3 separate regions of the Homo sapiens genome follow, and all the other regions are linked to region 3. Evidence: fine-mapped expression QTL. Tissue or cell type: adrenal gland. Region 3 holds a variant in brackets; each other region holds the start of a gene. All regions are shown on one strand. Distances are from middle to middle.

Region 1 (8,109 bases), 330 kb before region 3:
TTTAGTACTGTTTTTCCTGTTTCCTAGATTGGATTTTACAAATTTTGTGTTAAGGATATCTGTTGACATTTACTCATTTATTATTTAAAAAGTCTAGCTAATCTTGGATAAGAATTTTGTTGATTCATTCACTCACTAATTTAACAGCATTTATCTAATGCCTACCATGTGTGAAGGATAAAGTAGTGGAAAAAAACAGGTGTAGTTTATATTTTTGTAGGGTGAAGGGAGGTAGAAAATAAACAGTGAATAAACAAGATAATGATAAATTATAAATGCTATTAAGAAAATAGAGGGGCACGTGATTGACAGAGAATAAATGGGAACGTGAGCTATTTTAGATACGGTGGCCAGGGAAGGCCTGTCAGAGATATTTGGGTTAACCTGAAGGAAGAGAATGAGTCAGCCATATCCAAGACAGAAGACCACATCCCAGGCAGAAAAAAAATAAATAAATAAAAAATAAAAAGCAAGTGCAAAGGCCCTGAGACAGAGTATCAGGTAAGATTAAATTCAGTTGAGAACAAGAGACTCCAAAATAGTGGCTTTAATAATATAGACATTTACGACTGCAGGGCTAGCATGGTGCTCTGATCCATAAAGTTCTCACAGACCCTGGTTTCCACCAGTTTAGTTTTGCCATCCCTAGAATGAGAGAACTTGCATGAGGCACAAATTGGCAGCTACAGTTCTAAGCCATCACATCTATATTCCACGGTACAGGATAAAGGAAAAGCCGCATTGAAGGTGTGCACCAACTATCTTTTAAGGATGGTTTTACAAGTGTGCCACATGATATACTGCTTACATCCCATCAGCCAGCACTATTACATGGCTACAAGGAAGGCTGCAAAATATAGTCTTTGTTCTGGGTAGCCATGTATCCATGTCTATTACTATGAAAAAAATGGAGGAATTTTTGGGGACAACTAACAGACTCTGCTACAGACTAGAAAAAGCACAGCCCACGACAGAAAGGAGGCAGTAAGAAGGGTGAGAACAACTTCCTGTGCTGCTTCCTGGGAAGATGGAGAAGTGGGCAGGAGCCAGATTATGCAGTCTTGAAGGCTATGGTAAGGAATTCCGATTTCATTCTGTGTGCATAAGGAAGCTATTGGAGGGTTTTAAACAAGGGAGTGACATAACCTAATAACATTTTTTAAGTGATTGCTTTGGTTGGTATATAGAGAATGGTTTAAATGGGAAAATATTCATGAGGGTACAGATAGAAAGTGATAGCAACTAGTGTGGTTATTGCTGTGGTCCAGCAACAGATGATGGTGGCTCCCAAGGGTTGTACCAGTGGAAGTGATAAGTAGCTAAATTCAGAATGTATTTGTCAGGAAGAACTGATGGTACTGTCTGATGAGTTGTATGAGTGTGAAGAATCAGAAAATTCCAAGTTTTATGCCTGAGCAAATAAGTGAATGGTGGTACTATTTATGAAAATCAGGAATTCTAAAGGAGCAGCAGATTTAGGGAATGAACAAAGGGGATTCAAATGTTGTTTCAGACACATTAGAGAAGCCTGTCCTTTTTATCCCTTGCCATGGCAAAATTTTCAATACCATCCATATTTTTCTAAAAATGGGTGGCCTCCTTCTTCTACAAGTTATACACAAACTCATTCTTCCCTTAATAGGGTATTTTTTTTCCCTCAACGTCTGTAATTTTTAAATAAAGTGTACAGAGAATTTAACATAATACATATTTTGGAAATATACAAAACATGTGCCTATTAGTAAGGACTACTTTTCAGGTAAAAGTAAGAAAATCTAGTAAGATAGTTAAAAGAAACCAAACTACCAAATGGGCAAACTTAATCAACATTACCAATAAAGATGAACTTTTTGATGCAACAGGACAATTTAAAAAATATACCATCTATTGGTAAGAACTCTTACTATAAGAATTCTTACTATACAAGCCTTTAACAAATGCTAGCTCATTAAATACCTAGAGTACCCTCTAAGGTAGGTATTAAAAATTTTTTAACAAATTTATAATAGATTTGGCACAAATAATAGGACAATTAAAGGCTTGTTCTTCAACCCGGCTTAAAGTGAATTCATCCTAAACAAATAGGTGTTCAGTGAGAGTCAAAGTAAGTAGTATCAAATATTGAAAGTAATAGTATCAGTGTATTTTCTCCTAACACTCCTAACCCACACATTTATTATGAAAATGTTTGTTGTTCTATCTCTTCCAGTAAAATACTCAAGGTAATAAAACTCTCATATCAGACTTACACCCTCTGGAAGTCATTCCATAGAGGTATATTCAATCTTTTAACACACCATCTTATGGTTGAAGATGTTAACATGAGAAGGAGGAGAAAGCAGGAAGAGGAAGGGACTATTTGCAGAAGACGGGGAGAAAGAAAGGAAAGACACTAGTATGTGTTGTTCCTCCTCGAATTTTCCTGAAGTGAAAAAAAAACAGTGAAGTAGAGTGTTTGATGAAATGAATAACCAAGCAAAACATTTTCTACCTACACCAGTACCACTAGGAGTTGAAATAAATTCACACAATGTCTGCTGATATGTCAAAACACCTTACCTTCAAAAACATGACAGTTACCTTTTATTTTATAGTATGCTTGTGTTTCTTCCTATTTCTTGCTTTTGACCTTCAATGATAAATGTAAACTGGATTACAGTGATTCTTTTGTAAGTAAAAGGTGACTTTTTAAAAGAAACAACCAATGGAAATAGAAATTTTATTTACTTCAAATTAACTGTACTTTACTCAAATAGAAAAGAATAATTTTCACATTATGAAGCTACACAATTCCAAAATACACATGCTGAGGCTCTTTTTAAGTCCGAATTGTCTAGTAATTACAAAAAAGTGAAGAGTTTACAGATATACAAGGAAATAAAGGCGAATTATTGCAAAGAAAACAAGTTTAATTTCACTTTGAATGACAACGATTTTTCTGGAAAGCAGATACTTCACTCCTTTAAGTTTCCACCCAAGCCACAATAATTTCAAACGGTCTTGCGGATGACCCAGCTGGTCACTCTTGTTTATGTGGGGACTGGAGGTAATGAGAGCCAAAAAAAGTGCTATAAACCTAATTTGGCTAGAGCAAGTTCACACGACACGACCGTGCTTTAAAAACTTGCTCTCCATTATGTACTTCCTTCCATCAGGTTGGGGAAAAAAAAATGGTGGGGATGGTGAGTAAACACACCAGTGGTTTCATCAGAGGGGAACTCACTACTCAGGAGGTGACGGTGACGTGGTGCCGGTCCCTGAAGTACGCGCACAAGCTCCGGAGGTTGCGGGAGCTGAGGGAGGAAACAGGGACACGATCAGATTCGCTCCAGGTGGCGGGAGTGAGGAGGGGAGGAGTGACGAGGCGGACGTGCGGGGGCGGGGGTGTCCAACACAAACACAAACACAAACACGAACACGAACACGCTCAGCGTCCCCGGGGAGGGCGGACTGAAGCCACCTCACCATTCATCGCCCCTGGACCCCGCAGTCCCCCTCGGACTCAGGGCCAGAGCCTTCTGCGAAGCAACCTAGCCCCAGGGAAACGGTAGCGGCCGCAGAAGCCCCGCTCTCTGTAACGGCCGCGGAGGAGCAGCAAGCCTCCCTGTGAGTCGGTGGGAGACAAGACGGAGCGGCGGTAAGGGCGGTAGGGAAGTGAAGCGCCTCTCTCCACCTTGTTAGAAGCGCGCTGAAAGCGGCCTGCCTACCCACCCCATCGCTGCCGTTTTGCAGTCGTCGCTCCCACCTTCCGCTGCCGCCTGGAGGGAAGCCGGAGCGACGGGGGTCACGGCGGCGGTCAGAGGGTAAAGGTCTTGCTCCCAGCAGCCTCCGCGGTGGATACGTCGCCATCTTGGATCCGCGGGACAAGAAAATTCATGCGGTGAGTTTTTGGTAAATTTTCGGAAGTCTGGCAGCGGGGCGCGCGGCGGGGGCGGCAGATTCGGGGCCCCCGCAAGGCGGGGGAATGCCCCGGGGCCGGTCCGGTCGCGCCCAGGGTCCGCCGGTAGCGTCCCGGCCCACCGCTTCCCGTTGCTTTTGTCTCGGCTCCAATCGAGAGACGGAGAGCGGAGCGGGCGGGGAGGGGGGTGGCGGCGGTGGAGGGAGGGAGGGGGTGTGTATGGGGGTGGTGGTGGACCGGACGTAAAGCGTCGCTGTACTCGGGCCGCTGCAGCAGCAGCAGCTCCAGATCCTAGGCCCGGTCCCATCCGCGAGTGGTGGGGCTTCCCCAGACTCCACTCCCCTAGGCTCCCGCCAGCGCGGAGGAGCCGCTGCCGCCGCGCTGCTTCCTGGGGGAGAAGAGAAGGCGGCAGCGGCCGTGGCCGTGGCCGACGAGCTCGAGCCCGCTTTAGACGGCTCTGCCGCCTTCCCGGCAGCTGGTGCTGTCTGTGGCTTCTTACCTTCTCTCAATACACGTATATCATCTGCCAGTTATGTGTATTTCTGTTAGTGTGTTTGCAAGTGTCAGATGGGAGACACTGGACTGGCTAACGGGTGTCAGGATCCTGCAGGCCCTGGGATACCGAAGGCTGTGCATGGTGGAGGGAGAAGGAATGCAACTGCGATGCCGCCTCTGCCACCGCACCAGGAAGGTGAAGCTTCCGTAGTGTCGTAGACTGAGTCCGGATGATCCTGGGGCGGCGGAGGAACCACAGACGCTTCTGTCTGTGAAGTTGCAAGTCCTGGGTTTCTACTTCCGCAGGGGCCTCTCCACCTTTTGCTGTCGTAGGTCTCGCTTAAAAGTTTAACAGAAGAAAAGAGTAGGGTTAAAAGAGGCCTTTGTAGTTCTTCATTGAAGCACTGTTGTCTGTCCGGGTGAAAGCTGATAACTCTTGGTAACTGTGGTCCTTAGCAAAAGAGAATTGGAGTTTTCTTTTATACAAAGTATTTCCAAGGTTTTAGACCTTATATTTATTCCAGGCCTGTAGGTACGGTATTACTACCACAAAAGTCTTACATTAAGGGTACCACCCTCTCAGAGGGAACCTAAACATCAACTTCCTTCGAATCCTTGGAGACATCTTCACTTTTCAACATCCGGAAGACTGAGTGCAACATATTTTGTTTCATTTTCATAAAAGTCTTGGTCAGAGAATCCCACTCCTTTTAAAATCGTTTGGGCAATTCCTCATAATTAAGTACACTGCTTTGAACCCTTAGTTCTTGGCGAAATGGTAAAAAGTACTCAGTTAAAATCAGTTCACGAGGGAGGCCAACTTGAATTTAAGGTTCAAAGTTGAACATATTTAGTGTCATGCTTAATATTAGGAATTTTTAGAGCTCGGAATCATAAGTGTGACTGTTGATTTCCCTTTTGAAGCAATATAAATGGAAAGAATAAAGTATGGGGTGAGGGATGAGATAGAAATTTTAAAGTATCCATTTACATGCAAGGTTGATGTTGAGTTTGGGAATGCTTGGCATAATTGACAACAGTTCTTTCCAAACGTCAATGAATAAATCTCACAATTTTGTAAGGTAACTATTGCAGATTGAAAGGGTTAAGAATCATAGTTGGCTGAAATGGTTAAGTGTCTATATTCACATCCCAGTTCATTGAAATGTTTTATAATGGACCAAGATAATTAGTAAGCTCTGTATGTTGAATTTGTTTAGTTTGTAGTTCTATTATAATGTTAAATCTAAAGAAAAAAATACAAAATACACTTAAAGACAAAACATGTTCCACTCTACTCACTTATTTCTTGACTTTGTAAGATCCTTACTGTAAAAAAGGTACTTTTCTCTCATATTTTCTGAGAGCTTGAATTGTAATAATTTTTGTGAATACTTTGTATTTTAGAGAGGAAGTGAGAAACTGCTGAAGTTTTTTTTGCATCTTGATTAGTGCTTTATCAATACAAATAAGTTAATGTAAACATTTGTTGGCAGGAATCTTTTTCTAAGTATACAATGTAGAGATATCTGTAACCTAATCTGATCTCAGGGAATGAGAATTGCCTGTTTAACCAAGCAACAAATACAGCCTATACAATTTTTCAATTTCTATAATACTTTAATTTACATGGTGGAAAAATGAGGGCAAAATGCTTGTGTATGAGTGATTTATATCCCCAAGTACCTGCTCTTGAAGATAAAACTCAGATTGTGGCTTATCTTCTGATGCTGGGCAAAAAACAAAAACAAAAAAATTCAGAATGATACAACTTCCCATATACCTCCCTACAAGAACTAATTACCTTTGTTTTTGCTTTATAACTTTGGATGTTGCACTTTTTGATTTTTCAGAGATGCTTTACAGTTATTGTAATCTGAAAATTATTTGTTCAAAAGTAAATAAAATTTTCAGGTGTATGAATAGATTTTATTAGAAGTGATTCTAACCCAGTTCTCATTTGTATTCCTTTAGTAGATACTGGTGTTAAAAGTACCTGTATTTTGAAAGACCATTACAGAATTTTTTACAACCTGTATAAGTTATAGTTTTATCTTTTCTAGTGACAGACTTACTTCATAAGATTTTCTGATAATATGAATAAAATGTATGCTTCACATGTATATATGAAATAATGAGTAAGCATTAATAGACCAATGAAAAGAACTTAGCTTACAATTTATTTTCTTGCTCTTTAAAAGCAGTGGTAAATAATAGCTTTTTTTTGTTGTTAAAATTTGTAACTGTAGAAAGTTCATTCTGTTGGGATCACATATTTGAAGGCAAACTAACAATGCCATGTGCTTGCTTGAATAGGCATTTGAGGACAGGTTATTTTCCTGAGATTTCAGGAAAATATACCACCAAACATTTATGATGTTATTTGTTACCTGGATCTGTAGTGGATTTTGTAACACAAAGAGGCAGAATATCCAGGGTACCAGGTAGGGCAGTTTAGGGGCAGAGTTAATATGAGGTGTACTGTAATGTTTGAGTGGAATTACATACAGTGTTAATCAAGAGATCTAGTGCTATGGTAGAACTTATTCTGCTTGATGATACAGGTGACTGTTCTTCCTTACTAAGAGCAGTTTCTACCTGTGATACTTAAAGGGATTGAATTTCACTGTGACTTATATCAGATATTTTGAAAAGAGCTGTGCTAAAGTTGATGTCATTGTAGAAAGTTTGCCTTGAAGTGGAATGAAAGTTAGGTTTTTATTTCTTTGGTTTTTCTGTTTGACATCCTTTGATTTCTATTTTAGAATTCAACTCTTATGACTAATCATGCTGATGTGGTTTGTTCATTTATTTTCTTTGTCTATACTATTAGGAATGTCCTGGAAATAGAATTTGTACTGTGTTTTCTGAGAGCTTGTTCTCTGAAATACAGATGCAAATCTGTTGGTATCTGTTGGTATATCCCTTGGGGGTGTGCTGCATTATAAAGTAATAAAACAGTTTACAATGTTTGCTTTTTGTCAAGAGCTTATGACATATAATATGGAAATACAAAAAAGTGAATTATTTAGGAAAAAATGGGAAATTTTTCCTTTTCTGGGCACTTCAGGGTTTTGTATATGCGTAGACTCAGGATCTAAGTCCACTTAGATATATAGTTAGATATTTTGGACTATTTGCCACTTAACCCTGCACATTTTCTTTTCCTTATTCTTTTTTTTTTTTCTTTGAGACGAAGTTTTGCTCGTCGCTGAGGCTGGAGTGCAATGGCGTGATCTTGGCTCGCTACCACCTCCGCCTCCCGGGTTCAAGCGGTTCTCCTGCCTCAGCCTCCTGAGTAGCTGGGATTACAGGCATGCACCCAGCTAATTTTGTATTTTCAGTAGAGACAGGGTTTCACCATGTTGGTCAGGCATGTCTCAAACTCCTGACCTCAGACGATCCGCCTGCCTCACCCTCCCAAAGTGCTGGGATTACAGGCATGAGCCACCACGCCCGTCCTATTCTTTTTATTCATGTGTATGTTATTGCATGTATGTGTGTGGGGGGCAGGTGGTAGTGCATATTTTATGTATCTTTCACTTCTCTGTTGTTTGATGAACTTCTTCCATACTCCTCTTTGGTATCACTTTCTTCATAAATCTTTCCTGACTCCCCAAATCCTTTGCTGTATTGCTTTTTACTCTTCAAACTTCTATTATAGAATGTCACACTGTATTGTAATTTACTGTCCATCTGGACTGGGAGCACCTGAG
Region 2 (8,109 bases), 210 kb before region 3:
TTGCTAAGCATCTGAAGAGGCTATTTTCAACACAAATGTGATTCAGAGTAAAATTAAGCAGGGGGACCAGATTAAATTATTAGTTCCTTCAGCCTCTACTCACCGTCCCCTTCATAATCGTTTCACAGTAGAGATTTTGATTAAGCCTAACTGTACTTAAATATAAGTATAGAAACACATTTTAAATCCATTCATAAATGCTTTTTGTATTATCTACACTTCATTTTTGTTAACAAATTTCTTAGAAGTGGCATAGTATAGTAGAAAAATTGTTTTAGGTAATTTATTATCTTCGAGTAGTTAGTATTTCTTAAATATAAGATACTATGTAAAATGCAAATATAAAATCCCCTGGCCCTGTCACAATATGTGTGCAGTCTTGCAAAAATTACCTAATCTCTGAATGTTTTTCCCTCTTCTTCTCATGGGAAGGTTAAATTAAGGCATTTGTAAATAACCTAGCTTATATTAGGTGTTGCATCGACGTAGGTCCATTTCTCTAAAGACAAACACTCTTCCTGTTAGCCATCATGCTAGGACAGGCTCTCCATGTTTTTGGATTCTGTTCAAGACCTTTTAACTTCACTAGATACTGTTATATAGCAATACCCAATTTTCTAAAGTGCATGGCAAAACAAAAATGGGAATTAGATACTAGAATACTAAAACTCTTCTAGACCAACCCTTTTGTACGACAAGGAGGAAACTAATATTGCTATGGTTTAAAAGTGTCCCCCAAATTTAATGTGTTAGAACATATTCCCCAAATTCATATTTTTGATGGCATTTCGAGATGGGGCCTTTGGGAGATAATTAGGATTAAATAAGGTCATCAGGGTGTGGGGCCTGATGGGACTGGTGGCTTTATATGTACAGTGGCCTGAGTTAATAGGCATTCTTGCTTTCTTGCTATGGAACTGCCTTCTGCCATGTTAGGGTACACAAGGACCTGACCAGATACTACTGTCATGCTCTTGGACTTCCCAGCATCTAGAATTGTAAGAAATAAGTTTCTTTATAAATTACCCAGTCTCAGGTATTCAGTTATAGCAACAGAAAATAGACTAAGAGGATTATTTACCTTGTGTCAAATTATTTACTACTAAAGCTGGGACCAAAACCTCTTGGCCTCTATGTTTCAAGTTCCAAAGCTGATTTCCCTTTTACTACATACCTGTGTATATCTCTCCCATACAGATTCACTGCAGTTAACATGAAAGACTCAACAGTTGGTGAGATTTTAGGAACTCTAGAGCACTACCAGTATGGTATTAAAAATTTGCTAATCTATCCAGAATGTAAATTTTAATGGAAAAAATGTGAATTGATTGTCTGTGTTTTGCTTTCCTCAGTTGCAAACATAAAGGCTATACACAAACATAAATTTGAGCTTTTAAAAAATATTTTAAATAACTACAATTACAAGCAAAATGCAAAGTCTGGGAGCTTCTTGGTTAATGTTGAACTAGGCAATGGTTAAAATCCCTTCCTGTTCTAATTTACTGTAATTAGAGATAGTAAGTAGTGTTCTTAGTAATAATTATATGCTCATTTTAATAGGTGAAGTTTATGGCCAGGAAAAAACAATCAGAAAAAATAGTGACCACATAGGAAATGTATTTTGAATTTAAAATTCTGAGGCTAATAACAAATATTTAACACTCATAATGGAGCATGGCAAGGAAATTAATTTGGTATCAGCAAGCTGGAACTCAATTTCCTATGACATTAACAAAATCTATAATTATAGCTGCTGAATCAAGAAGAAAATATAAAATGGTTTTATATGGTTTTCTTTGTTGGATCACTCATACTTTCATCATGTGTAATATCTAGTAAAAAAGGTCTAAACTCTAGAACGTAAATTTTAATAGAAAAAGTGATTATACATTATTTTCCTATGTATTTTCGCTTTTCAAGTGTTTAGTGGCAGTTATCAAAAAACTTCATAATGTGCCAATTTTTGAAAAAATTTTCCCACCTGCTGTAAATTCCCTTCTATTCCTAGGATACAAAAGCCTGCCTTAAAATTATTTTTAGAATCTTTTATTAAAAAGTATATATACATATGATATTGTATACTGCAACTTTAGCATCAGCCACAGGACTTTTTGAATATTGATCATGAGAACAAATTATAAGTAACATGGCTTTGATGCCCTTGTTTAGACAGGCTTTATTTTTCTTTTAAATTGAACTTTATCAAGACCTGGCCATGATCCTACTGGAAAAACTACTGCAGACGATGTACATCAAATAAGTCAGTCTGGTTCTTAATATTACATTTTTAATCTTAATTGGTGGAACACTATTCAAAGAAAGGACTAGCTGCTTTTTCTGTGCTACTTCCACCTTTCACAGGGAACAGAGATTTTAAGTGACCTCAGATCTTAGCATTTCTGAGCTTTCCTGGAGTTCTTACTACCATTCTGACTTAGTAAGTGGTGACCTGTATTCTGAAACTGAGGGGCTGACATATCCAATCTTCCTTGGGAATGTGATAAAGCAGCTCCGCTTCAAGTAAGTAAAACTAATAAACACTTCCAGTGTTTCATTAAGAATAAAATAGAAATTGATTTAATTTGTGAAGTCTTAATACGTTTGACTTTCAATAAAGATGTGAAGATAAAAGTGTTCAGAGAAAAGCTAAATTAAAAACAGGAAACAGGAGAAAAAAATGTCTAGAGAACAGAAGACACAAGTTTCTTTAAATACTTTAAGAATAATTGCCAAGAAAGAAATTGACTAAATGCAGAACTGAAAGAAAATGAATTTTAAAACTTCAAGAATTTCAGTTAAAATAAGATAGAATTTTCTGATTTTGTTCCCTAGACTTAGACCACCGTACTTCAGTTTTGAGGCAGAGGTTTCATTCACAGAAGACTTTGAGCTCTGGAATCATTGAAAAACGAACCATATTCATTAAATTATTGGTAGTCCCCCAACTGCTGTGCATTAATAGGAATTAATTCTGCCTCATTTCAGTTCCTCAACATACTGAGCTAGAATAATTGTATCTTGTTATTTGTTCATCATTGCTTCAGATCTTAGACATAGCTTTTCCTTTCTTGGAAAAGAAGATTATAACAATAGAAAAAAAAGATTATTTCCTATGTTTTTTATTTTTCCTGCAATAGGAAAAAGATTCAGATTGAAGATTTGTGATTTTCGGTTATGCTATTTCAATTATTAAACTCACTTTTAAGCAATGTAATCACAATTGTCTTTATGCTAACAGGAAAAGAATACAATTCTTACATTTAAATTAAAAAAAGAAAATCTCAAAACCTGAAAGGTATTAGAGAACAAAGCATCTTCCTAATTTGGACGTTTTTCAAACTCTACATCTTCTTAATTTATTGAGAAAAAGACACTTAGGATCTTCCTGTAATTAATTTGCCCATTGCTGGGAAATACTTGTTACCTGTCATAATGTAGTGCTTCAAAATAACGTTATCAGAACTGCAGTCGAAAGGTACTCAATACCAGTTAAGTAACATTTGAAGTCCAGGAAAGAGAAGTCAAGAATTCCATGATTCCATGTTTCCGTATTCATCAGGAACATAATTAAGAGTTTATTCATTTGAGACTTACAAGCAAACAAAAAAAGTTTATGTAGTTTGCAAGGAAGTTAATATTCTGATTTTATTCTTCGAAATGTACATATAAATAGTTCTCAAGTTTGATTTTATGATAAAAGTGTAGTTTGGGAAAAGGTCATTCTAACTTTAAAAAGGTCGCGAAAACAATAGAGGCTGAAGCATTGTTAGCGTAATTGGGGGAGGAGGGAGCAACGGCAAGAATTAAGAGCAGAACACAGGTCTAGAAACAGTACCTGTCCCAAAGTGGGTCTGCCCGGCGCTGTCGCTTTAAGCAGCGCTCCTGGAAACCTCATCTACAAATCCTGGGGCGGGTCAGGGGTGGCAAGACTCCTAAGGAGGGAAACGACAGAAATGATTCTGTTCTTGCGAGCCCCAAAGCAAGAGTACTTTTCTGATGGGTAAAGTGGTATTTCTTTCCAGGCTGCAAAGCTCTCCACCTTTTTCCTTTGGTCTCAGTCAGCCCCAGCCATGGGGGCAAATCAAGTTGGGGTCAACTCGGCTGCCAGAGACCTAAGTTGCCACAAGGGTCACCGACGACCTAAGCAGCAAGTTTCCTTCGTCCAGCCTCCTGCCCCCACGCACATTGCCTCCACAGCAAACTCCACCTGACTCAGCTTGTTTAACTCCAATCCTGCAGCCCTCCCGGCCTCAGCAGGGTCAGGGGGCGCGGGTCTGCGCCAAGACGGTTAGGAGGCCCAAGTCCTGGGACTGGACGGTTACTGCGCTCCCTTGGGCGCAGCCGCTGGCGGCGTGGGCGCGGCTGGGTCACGCCTCCGGCACCACCGCGCGCCAGCCCGCCCGTGGCATGGGAACCTGCGATTCAGTCGTCCCCGGGGACCTCCCAGCGCACACCGCTAGCCTGGGGCTTTCACCTCGATCCGCCCGGCCTGGGCGGCTCGTGTCCTCCCACACCGCCACCCGTGCCCGCTTCCCGGGGTGCGCCCGGAGCCTGGCCGCTCTCCCTGCAGGTGACCAGTACTCGTTTGGAGTTCAAGATTCCCGCCGCTCCACTTGAACTCCACCCTCCCCTCTTATTATTATTATTATTTTAACTTCCCTCCGGTTAAGCTAAATTGATCTTAATCTTTCATCTCGGACGTCCCTCTAAGGGGAGTGAGCGAAGATTCCGATTGCAAGTCGCCGCTGTCGCTTGTGCCCGTCAGCCCCTCGCCCAAAGGAGACGCCCCCGGGCGGGGCGGGGCGGAGCGGGGCGGGGCGGAAGGGCCCGGGTCTGCTGCGGACGGGGCGGGGCGGAGCCTCCTCCTGCACGGGGGAGCCCCCGGGCTCGCCCCAGCTCAGACACTCCTAGCCTTGGGGCAGCTGCCGGGCGAGTCAGCGGAGTAGCGGCCAGCGGGCGATGGAGACAGAGAGACACCCGACGAGAGGAGGCGGGGTGGGGGAGGCGGGGAGAGTGCGGGGGCGGAGGCTGGCAGGGGGCGCTGGAAGCTGGAGCGGTCCGTGCGCTCCCCGCGCCCGAGGGTGCAGGAGGCTCTGAAGCGGCTGCTGCACCGCGGGGCCCAGGCGGCGGCTGGGGGGCTGGGGGGCGCTGCCGCCGCCGCCGCCGGGGGCGTCGCTGGCCTCGGCCCCTTTGTTCTCGCGCGCTCCCCCTCGCCGCCCACTCCCCTGCTGTCGCGCGGCGGCGGCGGTGGCGGCGGCGGCTCCTCCCGCCCGAGGCAGTCGGGCTCGGCGCCGGGGGCGGGAGGGGGCGGGGGGAGCACGCCAGCCGCCGAGAGTGGGGGGCGATGGCGAAGCTCCGGGTGGCTTACGAGTACACGGAAGCCGAGGACAAGAGCATCCGGCTCGGCTTGTTTCTCATCATCTCCGGCGTCGTGTCGCTCTTCATCTTCGGCTTCTGCTGGCTGAGTCCCGCGCTGCAGGATCTGCAAGCCACGGAGGCCAATTGCACGGTGCTGTCGGTGCAGCAGATCGGCGAGGTGTTCGAGTGCACCTTCACCTGTGGCGCCGACTGCAGGGGCACCTCGCAGTACCCCTGCGTCCAGGTCTACGTGAACAACTCTGAGTCCAACTCTAGGGCGCTGCTGCACAGCGACGAGCACCAGCTCCTGACCAACCCCAAGGTAAGAACGCCCCGCGCACCCAGGGGCTCCCCGCGAGGGAGGTTTGGAGGCAGCGTCGGTGTTAGACTCCGCGCGGGGAGGGTTCGGCGTGTGCTCGCATTGCTAGGAGGAGACCAGGTGGCGCAGGCTGTGCTCAAACCAGGAATGACTACATCAGGGAGCCCCAGGGCTCCGGTCTTTTCAGGTGGGTTTACGCGCGGCGACCAGTGGTGCCCAGAGGCTTACTTTAAAACCTGTCTTGCCTGGTCTCAGATTTTGAGGCCTCGACCCAGTCCGGGTCCTGCGCCTACCGGACTGGGTTTGGAGAAGTGCAAGGAGCCAAGAAAGTTAACTTTTCCTCCATTTAAAGCCAGTGGTTAGCGGGGATCCACCTACTCCAGCTCACGGTCAAGGTCCGAGCTTCAGCTGGTCTCATCTAGAACTCAGATGGAATGACCTTCCTTGAAAGGTCGAGGGGACTCTCGAAAGTTGTGAGAGAGTTCCTCACCTTTTCGCTCTACATAGGCATTTTCAACTTGGGGTTCAAAGATAAGCTTTTGTGGCTTGACAAACGACCCGGAATCAAATGTGGAATATTGCGGGTCCATTTTGGGAAGTACAGAGGGCTCCTAGTTTTCATGAAATAGATTCTCAAAAGAGTCTACAGGGAGCCTAGTTACCCTTTGTGTTTAGGGACAGTCAGGAGTCGTCTGGAGAACAGTAAAACTTGCTGAAAATAGAAAACCTTCAGTGAAATGTACCTAATATGACTTCTCTGACAACTTCTATTGGTCTCGAAAGCAAGCAAGAAGAAAAAGAAAAAGAAAAAAAAAAAAGATAAAACCTGGTTAGGACTCCCGGGATGGAGAGCAGAGAGAGGAAGTCTCAGAAAACTGTTCCCAATGGAGAAAAATAACTTATAAAAAGCAGTGTCCTTAGCCTGTGAACTAATTGAGCTTTGTAGTGCACCTGGTTCTGGTTCCGTTTCTACTTCCCTTGATCTTTTCTGCTCTCCTTGTTGCTTAACTATCAAAGGTATGTATCTTTTTAAAAGTTACTGACATTTTTCCTTTTTTTGAGGGATCAAGCAGAAAAACAGTCCAAAAGGGAATGCATCTTGTGTTCACAGGAAAACTTTCTGTTAACTCTAACAAGATATATTTATATTAATCCAAAAGAAAAAAATTCTACATTAATATTATAATAGTATTTAAAACAGCTTACCGTCACTCTGCAATAAAACTTGTGGTCTTACCTCCTGAACAGTAAATTCTTGAATTTGAGACATTTAGAAAATATTTCTTTTTAAAAATATGAATGACTCCTCTCAAAAAAAAAATGCTCCTGTCGACAAATGAATATTGATTTACCTTAAAAAATATCAATAATACATAAGCAGTAAATATAGGACTAAGAATATAGAATTTGGAGTATAATGTTAAAGATCTTGAAGAGGTGATAACGTCTCAAAGACAAATGTTGTAACTTGATCCTCTTAATGCTCAGGAATTTAAAAAGAAATCTCAGGGTTTTAGAAACATTTTTTTTTTTAGAATTAAATCAATAATGTCAAAGATGAGTGCCAACCAGTAGTAATGATTTAGAAATTATATGGCAGTTCATCATTTAGAAGTTGTTATAGTTGGTGAAACGTTGCTAATTATTTTAAGATAGTGGTTCAAGCACTAATAAATTTCATATCTATATATACATATATATGCACACACACATTAATAAATGGCTAATATCTAATCAAGACAAGGACAAATTATAATTTATTACAAAAAGACTGCTTCACAATTTTCAGGCAGTTTGAAGTATCTGGCAGAAAAAGTAAATTGAAATCATTGGGACGTTGATTTTTAAATTACCTAGAAGCAATCCCAATGCTTTATGTAATACTAAAATTTCTCCTCTCTCTTTTCTTTATCTCTCTCTCCCCTGAAAATAATCATTTTTTTTCCAGTGCCAGTTCAGATCTTGGCAACAGTTGTTTTGAAAAAGTACCTGAACAAAATACATTTTATAAAGTAAAGTATTCAGGAACTGACAGAACTGGAGAAGAATATATTTATGTTACAGAAGTCATGGACAACATCCTATTCATTTTAGTCAAGGTTTTCTCAGCCAAACCAATTTATATCTCTTTATCCAGATTATAATTATGTTGTATCATTTATAGACTGTAAGTTTGTTCTTTAGCATCACCTTTCTATTTTTGACCAATAAATTCTCAATTTGGAAATTCTTATAGGCAGTGTGATGGAAAAATTCAATGTAATAAAAATATTATGCCAGAGTCATGTACATAAGCAGAGTGTTTCCACAGTGTCCCTGCAATTAGGCAATACCCATTGTCCATTCCTGTTGGCTCTTGGCTGCCTAGATCTTTTCTTTGCCTTACTTTACCTCTTTATTGAAGGCCTATGCTTCCCCTCTGTTTCTTTGTA
Region 3 (8,109 bases):
ACTTTTGCTTTTTATACTTTTAGTAGAGATGGGGTTTTGCCACGTTGCCCAGGCTGGTCTCGAACTCCTGGACTTAGGCTATCCACTCACCTCAGCTTCCCAAAATGTGGGATTACAGGCATGAGCCACCGTGCCCGGCCTTTATTCTAGTATACTAAAAAAGGTGTAGGTTCCCAAATGTGCCATCCTTTCTCTCACCTCCAGGGCTTTGTTTTCTCTGTTGGAACGAAGACAACTTACACTTCACCTGGATGACTTCTTAGTCTTTCTTTAAATATTACTTCCTCCTGAAAGCCTTCCCTGACTCTTCTTGTTTGCTCCTCTAACATCTCATAACCACTTTTTTCTTAGCACGTACCATGTTTTACTGTAATTGCCTTTTTACTTTTCTATCTCCTTCACTAGATTATAAGGTTCTTGAGGTCAGGGGCTTTGCCTTGCTACTGAATGCCCACTTTCTTTTTTTGGAGACAGAGTCTCACTCTGTCACCAAGCTGGAGTGCAGTGGCATGATCTCAGCTCACTGCAAGCTCCGCCTCCTGGGTTCATGCCATTCTCCTGCCTCAGCCTCCCGAGTAGCTGGGACTACAGGCGTCTGCCATCACACCCAGCTAATTTTTTGTATTTTTAGTAGAGACGGGGTTTCACCATGTTAGCCAGGATGGTCTCAATCTCCTGACCTTGTGATCCACCCACCTTGGCCTCCCAAAGTGCTGGGATTACAGGCGTGAGCTACCGCGCCTGGCCCGAATGCCCACTTCTAACACAGGATTTGTCATAGGGTTAAAGATATGCAGATATAGATATAAATATAGATATGAAATAGAGGCATAGTAGGGCATGGTATAGAAGCCCCAGACCCCACAACTAAATAAGTGGTCATGAGAATGGGAGACATCTAAGAAGTATTGTGTCACAGTGGAGAGGGCACGAGGTTTGGGGCCAGACAGACCTAGACTTGAATTATAGCTTTAGGTCTTGTTATATACGTATCCTTGATACTGTTTTACAAGCTTTCTGAACTGTTCTTTCCTCATCTGTAAGAGAACTATAGTATGGCTAGAGATCTTTCAAAAATAATACATGAATAGTGATATTGATATAAACAGATATATTATTCATACATTTGATACTTGTTTTTTTAGCTCTACCAGGTAAAGTAGATGGCACAGATGTGTACTCTTTCTTAAAAGGTAGAACTTTTGAAAAATGCATAATTATGGAAGTCTCCTTATTAAAATTTATTTATTTATTTATTTACTTATTTATTGGGACAGGGTCTCACTCCGGTTGCCCAGGCTGGAGTGCAGTGGCACGATCACGACTCACTGCAGCCTTGACCTCCCGGGCTCAGGTGATTCTTCCACCTCAGCCTTCCAAGCAGCTGGGACTACAGGTGTGCACCACCACGCCTGGCTAATTTTTTGTATTTTTAGTAGAAATGGGGTTTAGCTATGTTGCCCAGGCTAGTCTCGAACTCCTGAACTCAAGCAATCTACCTGCCTTGGCCTTCCAGGGTGCTGGGATTACAGGCGTGAGCTACTGTGCCCAGCCTGCTTGTTAAAATTTAAAATTTTATTATCCTTTAGCAAGTATAAAAATGTGTTCAAATGATTTGGTTTCTGATTCCCTTTCATTTGTTTTGCAGATCTCTATTAAGAGAAAAATACAAAGAATAAATGAGTAAGGCTCTTGAAACCATTGAATTGTACAAACTTTGGTGGTTTTAAATCTGGATTTGTGAATAGCTGAGCCCGTTCACTGTCCCATTTTGGAGAACCATGAGGCATTCTACAATCTAGCCCTTCTCCAGGTGGATGCTTACCTGTCCGCCCAACCACATTTATCTGATTCTTCAGGGACCCGCTGACTGAGGCAATCATGATCTGGTACTGCTCCCCGGCCTCCAGTCTGTGGAACGTGTGCTCAAAGACGTGCTTGGGAATAGTCTGAGAGTCAACCTTTTGACTGTGCCTGAATGCCGACACCGTGTAGGAATCAACGTCTCCCCCACCAGGAGTCCAGTTCACCGTCAGGCTATCTGTTGCTCCATTGGGAGAAATGTGAATATTTTTGACAGCACTAGGAACTAAAACAGAAAATAAATTTAAAAGTCATCACTTAGAGAATGAACTGTTGAAATTTTCAAACAAAGTTTTGAATGCTTCTGATGTTTTGGCACCCACTGAGAGAACTCACATGAAAAAGAAAGTAACAATTTGCCACTTTTCTCTGATTTTTCTGTGTGAACTAAAGTTGATGGGGGAAAGCTTAGGGGGAAGTCAAAGCCGGTGAGTGGAAATGAGGAATGCTAATTATATAGCGAGGGGCTAGTTAGGGTGTCTTGGTCCAAGTTTTGGTTTTCTCACTCACTAGCTGTGGGACTACAGGCAAATTACTTGACCTCTGTAAGTTTTAGTTTCTTCATTAGGAAAAATGGCAGTGATGATAATACTAACCAGCCCATAGAGTTGTGAAGATTGATTCTTTTTTAATTTAATTTTATTTTATTTTTGAGGTAGGGTCTCTGTCTGTTGTCCAGGCTGGAGTGCAATGGCATGATTATGGCTCACTGCATCCTATACCTCCTGGGCTCAAGTGATTCTCCCACCTCAGCCTCCCCAGTAGCTGGGACTACAGGCACGTAACACCGTGCCCGGCTAATTTTTTTGTATTTTTTGTAGAGACAGGGTTTTGTCATGTTGCCCAGGCTGTGCTTGAACTCCTGGGCTCAAGCTATCCTCCTGCCTTGGCTTCCAAAGCATTGTGAAGACTGAACAAGATGTAGACATAAAATGCTTTGCTGTGGGTCTGGTTCATGGTGAACTGTCAGTACATGTTAACTACTATGGCAACACTCCTAAAAGAGTTCTAAAGAAGTGATACCCAAGTAACACTTAATTCTTAATCTGTGTGCCTCAGAAGCACCAGCTGATCACATCAGTTCATTGCTATTTCTCTGAAAGCACCCTCCAACCCCGCCACTCTCTGCTGACATCATACTTTATTTTCATTCATCCAGGTTGGACAACATCATTGTCACTATCAACATGACTTTGTCCCTTCTTGCTGTCTCCCTTTTATCCCTCCAAATGCTCAATCGAAATACCTGAACTACCCGAAAGTTAAATGCACCACTGCATCTATTCAGGTTCAAGAACAGTATTTCACATTACCTGTGAAGCCCTCAATGAAGGCTGACTGCTGTACATCCCCGCTAATCGTCAAGACAAGAATTTTGTATTGGCGGCCTGGTGTTAGGGAAGTAAATCGATACTCGGTTGCGGTATTTACAAGGTGAAAAGGAGGAAATACTTTCATGTCATTGAAGAGCAGCTGGATCTCATATTGGTCGACATCCCCATTAGCTCCTGACCAAGTCACATGCAAGTCCTCAGTGCTCCTGTTGCGCAATGTTAGATCCTTAACAGGCTCTGGAACTAGGGAGAAAAATGAGAAGACATTTCAGGAAAGGAACTGATCAGAGTTTACCTACATAATAATTTATGAATCACATTCAAGGAACTGGCAACATCTCCCTTCCCCAAATAAACCACTAGCACTACTTCATGCATAATTAAACAAGAAAAATTGGAAGCAACTATTAACATTGTGGTTTTTTCCTGACATAAATGTTACATGATCAGCATTGGTAGAACATAATTATAAAATGAGTTATGATCTCAATCATAAGATAAAACAAGAAGTCTAGAATCTAAATGCCATGATGCAGGAAGATAGGGAAGAAAAATGGGACATTTAGCCTTCTTGCTCCCTCACTATGTTTGCTTTTATCTACCAATAAATATTCTGTAATTATAGGCCATGGCTTGGCTGAATGATGTTAGC[A/G]CCAAGTGAGACTTACTGGGAATGTAATGTACTAATGAATAAGCAGAAAAAATTCAAGGTTCAGATAAATTACTAGAGACTTTCAAGTCCAACCAACTGTCAGATTTTGCAATCGTTCCACTTACTTGTTCTCCCATTCCCTTGTTCATTGGCTTCATATTGTCCACTTTTTGTAGTAACAGTGACACTGTACAACCGTCCAGGGACTAGCTGAACAAATACACATTCGTTTTCTGACTTGGGAATGCTTTTAGTTTGAATGAAGTTGTTTTTGTTTTTAATGGTGACTTCATAGTGATCAAAGTCTCCAGTGGCATGCACCCAGGATACCCTTAAATAGTCACTCCTGGCTGAGTTGCTAACACTGACTCCCTGGACTTTGTCAGGCACTGAAAAGGAAACAGAGAGTAACTAAATATTTATGAATTCTGAGTGAGTAATTGATCACAGATGACAAGCTGGGACAATAAAAAGAGAGAGTAGATTATTATTGTGTGCATTTAAAAGAAAAATCTTAGACCTTAGGTTACAAATTTCTGGAGGGGAAAGATTGTTACACTATGTGGAGTGATTAAACGGATCTTTTAACAGAAGCTGATGAACTCATTCTAAGCCTGCTGTTTGCCTGCACAAAGTGTCATGTATAAGATGGAACATTAAACATGATGGCTGATGATTAATATGAGTGATGGTAAACGATATAGATAATTCCAACATACCTTGCTGACTCAAAAGTTACTAAGAAGAATATAAGCAATCCCCCAACCCGCCCCCCTCAAAAAAATGAGGCTATGCATGGTGGCTCACACCTGTAATCCTAACACTTTGGGAGGCTGAGGAGGGCAGATCACTTGAGGTCAGAAGTTTGAGAACAGCCTGGCCAACATGGTGAAACCCCGTCTCTACTAAAAAATACAAAAATTAGCTGGGCATGGTGGTGCACACCTGTAGTTCCAGCTACTCGGGAGGCTGAGATGGAAGAATCACTTGAACCCAGGAGGCACAGGTTGCAGTGAACCAAGATCACATCATGCCCCTGCACTCCAGCCTGGGTGATGGAGCAAGACTCCATCTCATAAAAAAAAAAAAAAAAAGAAAAGAAAAGGAAAAAGAAAAATGGAAGAAGAAACACATATGGTTATTTGCATAATAAATGAAGAGATTTTCCACATCACTGGTGATCAAGGAAATGCAAGTCAAAACCACAGTGAAATACTGTTTTACATCCATTTGACTGGCAAAATTAAAAAACTATATAAAAACCACGTGTAGAAGAATATATACAGGAGACTGGATAATGAATACATACATATACACACATACACACACACAGTGAAATATTATATAATAGTTATAATTAATTCCTTAACTCAAAACACAAAAATATGGATTTCTTGTCCTTAACATCAAAATACAAAATATGGATGAATCTTACCTGTATAATAAGTAAAACATCTAAGTCCCTAAGATATTAAATACTACATTAAAAATACCTTTTTAAATAATGTTAAAAACAACAAAAAATTTTGAAACCCATAATTTTAGGCCTGTATATAAATGCAATAAAACTATGCAAGATGGAAAGCAAGGGAGAGGTGAACATAGGAGTCAAGATGTTGGCTACCTTTGAGTGAATTCACGAGGTGGGGACCACATACTTTGATGTAGGTTATTGTCAAGGTCCTAGCTTTTATTTTAGGTACTGGTTGGTTTCTTGTGTACATGTTAAATTATCAAAAATTACTAACTAGATGCCTAAAAAGTAAAGGTGGCAGTTGATGCATGGTTTCTTTTTTCTTTTCTTTTCTTTTTTTTTTTTTTTTTTTGAGACAGAATCTCACTCTCTTGCCCGGGCTGGAGTGCAGTGGTGCGATCTTGGCTCACTGGAACCTCTGCCTTCTGGTTCAAGCGATTCTCCTGCCTCAGCCTCCCAAGTAGCTGGGATTACAGGTGCCTGCCACTACACCTAGCTAATTTTTTGTATTTTTAGTAGAGATGGGATTTCACCATGTTGGCCAGGCTGGTCTCAAACTCCTGACCTCATGATTCTCCCGCCTCGGCCTCCCAAAGTGCTGGGGATGCATGGTTTCTTGAACCAAGAATTATGATTAATACAATTTTGTGCATGTGAGGTTCTTTCTAATATATGAACGAAACCATTCTGTATATCTGTGGTCCCCTCCCCAACCAGTAAATAAATATATGCATGTTACTTAGGAACACTGTGGAATAAGGCAATTCTGTATTTAGAGCATGATATTAAGGAGATTTCATTTTTCCATTTGGGGCTGAATTTTAATTCAACAGTAGGCCACAGATTCATTACTATTTCACGGTAACTGGACATTATACATATTAATGAGGAGGAGCATTGAAAAGAGGCATGAACTCGGATCCAGGGTACTAAACTCTTGTCCTAATACTAGCATGTCCTCTGTATTTGGTATATATTAGGGGTTTCTGATCTGACCACATGCCAAGGCTGTGTCCAATTTTTCACCTCTACTTTTTCTCAAATCATGAAATGATCCAGAAATTTCAGTATTTTGGCATGGAAGCTCCATTTTCTCACACCTGCAAGTTGCATTAGCATCCTTTGTTGCCTTGTGTTTACTGATTAGTGTTTGGAATATAGCTCACCACAGATATGGAGCAAGGACAGATATGCTTTCTCCAAGATATTTACCTAAAACCAATTACAGTGTTGTTAGAATACAGTCATCACAGAGTTAAGGAGAGGAAATTATGAAGTGGCATTTTATGCATGGGCTAAGAAAGGTCAATGATCCAGGCAATTTGCTAAAGGCAAAGCAACTATTACAGGAAGAAAAACCTGGCTGAATATCACGTTAAGTCAATAAGGAGCTCTCCAGGTGGAACGGGGTAATTTGTGGAGACCTGCCTTGCTACACAGTGAGATGATGTGATACAGAATTAGAAATATTGGTATTTTCACCCAAAATGTAGAACAAGAGCATCAGAAATGGAAAAGGGCATTAAGATAATCAGCCAAAATCATCAAGAGAACAACTCAGACATGACCCTCCAGTTAAACTGATTTGTCAGGGGCAATGATTTGCCTCCATTAGTCGTGTACCAAGTCCAAGTTCATGCCGGTCAAGGAGTCAAGAGGATGCACTGAATAAAGAATCACTTTCTTGCATTTTAAAACAATCTCAGCAAAAGACTTGGCAATATTAAAGTCATACGGATAGGAAATCATCATGAATTGACATTGGTAGGAAGCAAGGGGTTGGTAGTTAGGTAACACATCCTTTAATTTCTGGTGATTTTTAGGCTCCAAGTTGATCAATATGAGACCCTGACATAAGACTGCTTTGTAAATAGAAATCTGCTTTTCAGATCTAAGTCATTATTGTGATTGTCAGTGTAATTGGGCTTCAAATTATTCAAGGGTAGGGATAATCTCTTTATATCCCTGACTAGTGCTCTCGGATACAGCATGATGGAATGGACAGCACTGGAGCTAGACTGAACTCCACTACCAGTCAGCCCTGCAACCCTGGAGAAGCCACACTCCTTCTCTGGGACTTCCTTTATATCCAAATGAGGAAACAGGATTAGATCATTCTAAGGACCCCTTCAATGTCAGCATCCTGTAACAATATAAATCAGAGGTTCTTAGCTTTTTGGAGGTCACAGAAACCATAAGAATCTGATAAAAGCCATGGACTGTTTCTTCTCAAAGAAATGCATATACCTTTCCTATCCCCAGCAACCTCATAAACAATTTCAGGGGTTACTACATTCCTAAAGTCTCCCATGAACCATGGACTCCCAGGTGGGACCCCTGATCTAAGTGATTTCTGATTATTCCTTTGCCAAGTATTTACTGAGTGCCTACTAAGCCCCAGGTCCTGCGCTAGGTAACAGGATAAGGACAATTGTCTCAGAACCTCATGGAAAAACTGACATTTTAAAATACAGAAATCAACCCATAGCTTAGTAGGAAACATTTGACAATGTATTGATGCCAACCTTAAGCAGAAATCTCAGGTATAAACCCCAGAAAGCATAAATATATTGGGAAAATGGTAGCTATTTAAATTTAATTCTTTCCAGCACATTGGACTGAACATTCATTTCCTTTGCTAAGATTTTTGCTCCCTAGTCCCAGAACCATAAAGGTTCACATTTTCACCTTGTGTGAAAAAGGATGAATAGTGGTTTTGACCAACAGACATTTCAGGATGGATTTTAGGATGGAGAGCTTTGTAGGCACTGGAGTCATTCAGAACT

The links. PIP is the estimated chance that this variant, and not a neighbour inherited with it, causes the effect.
Region 1: it holds the start of CNOT2, and the variant in region 3 is fine-mapped to the expression of CNOT2 in adrenal gland (GTEx, PIP above 0.99).
Region 2: KCNMB4 starts here. The variant in region 3 is fine-mapped to the expression of KCNMB4 in adrenal gland (GTEx, PIP above 0.99).

Annotation. Positions count from the first base shown.
Region 1 is chr12:70,239,601-70,247,709 of GRCh38, forward strand. It overlaps CNOT2 (CCR4-NOT transcription complex subunit 2), which reads left to right and starts at 3,833. Exons shown (of 16, transcript NM_014515.7): 1 at 3,833-3,880. PRANCR (progenitor renewal associated non-coding RNA) reads right to left here and starts at 3,760. Exons shown (of 5, transcript NR_120460.1): 1 at 3,712-3,760; 2 at 3,224-3,293; 3 at 2,581-2,629. RefSeq lists enhancers at 3,119-4,318, 3,493-3,692, 4,423-4,562 and silencers at 3,252-3,791, 3,863-4,122.
Region 2 is chr12:70,361,391-70,369,499 of GRCh38, forward strand. KCNMB4 (potassium calcium-activated channel subfamily M regulatory beta subunit 4) reads left to right here and starts at 4,900. Exons shown (of 3, transcript NM_014505.6): 1 at 4,900-5,680. The coding sequence starts at 5,345. RefSeq lists a silencer at 4,716-4,955.
Region 3 is chr12:70,567,850-70,575,958 of GRCh38, forward strand. It overlaps PTPRB (protein tyrosine phosphatase receptor type B), which reads right to left. Exons shown (of 34, transcript NM_001109754.4): 12 at 3,975-4,238; 13 at 3,177-3,440; 14 at 1,826-2,089. PTPRB-AS1 (PTPRB antisense RNA 1) reads left to right here. Exons shown (of 9, transcript XR_001749196.2): 9 at 1,649-3,601. Among named protein-coding and RNA genes, the nearest start is that of PTPRB, 66 kb to the right of the region's middle. The variant A/G (reference allele first, on the strand shown) is at 3,850.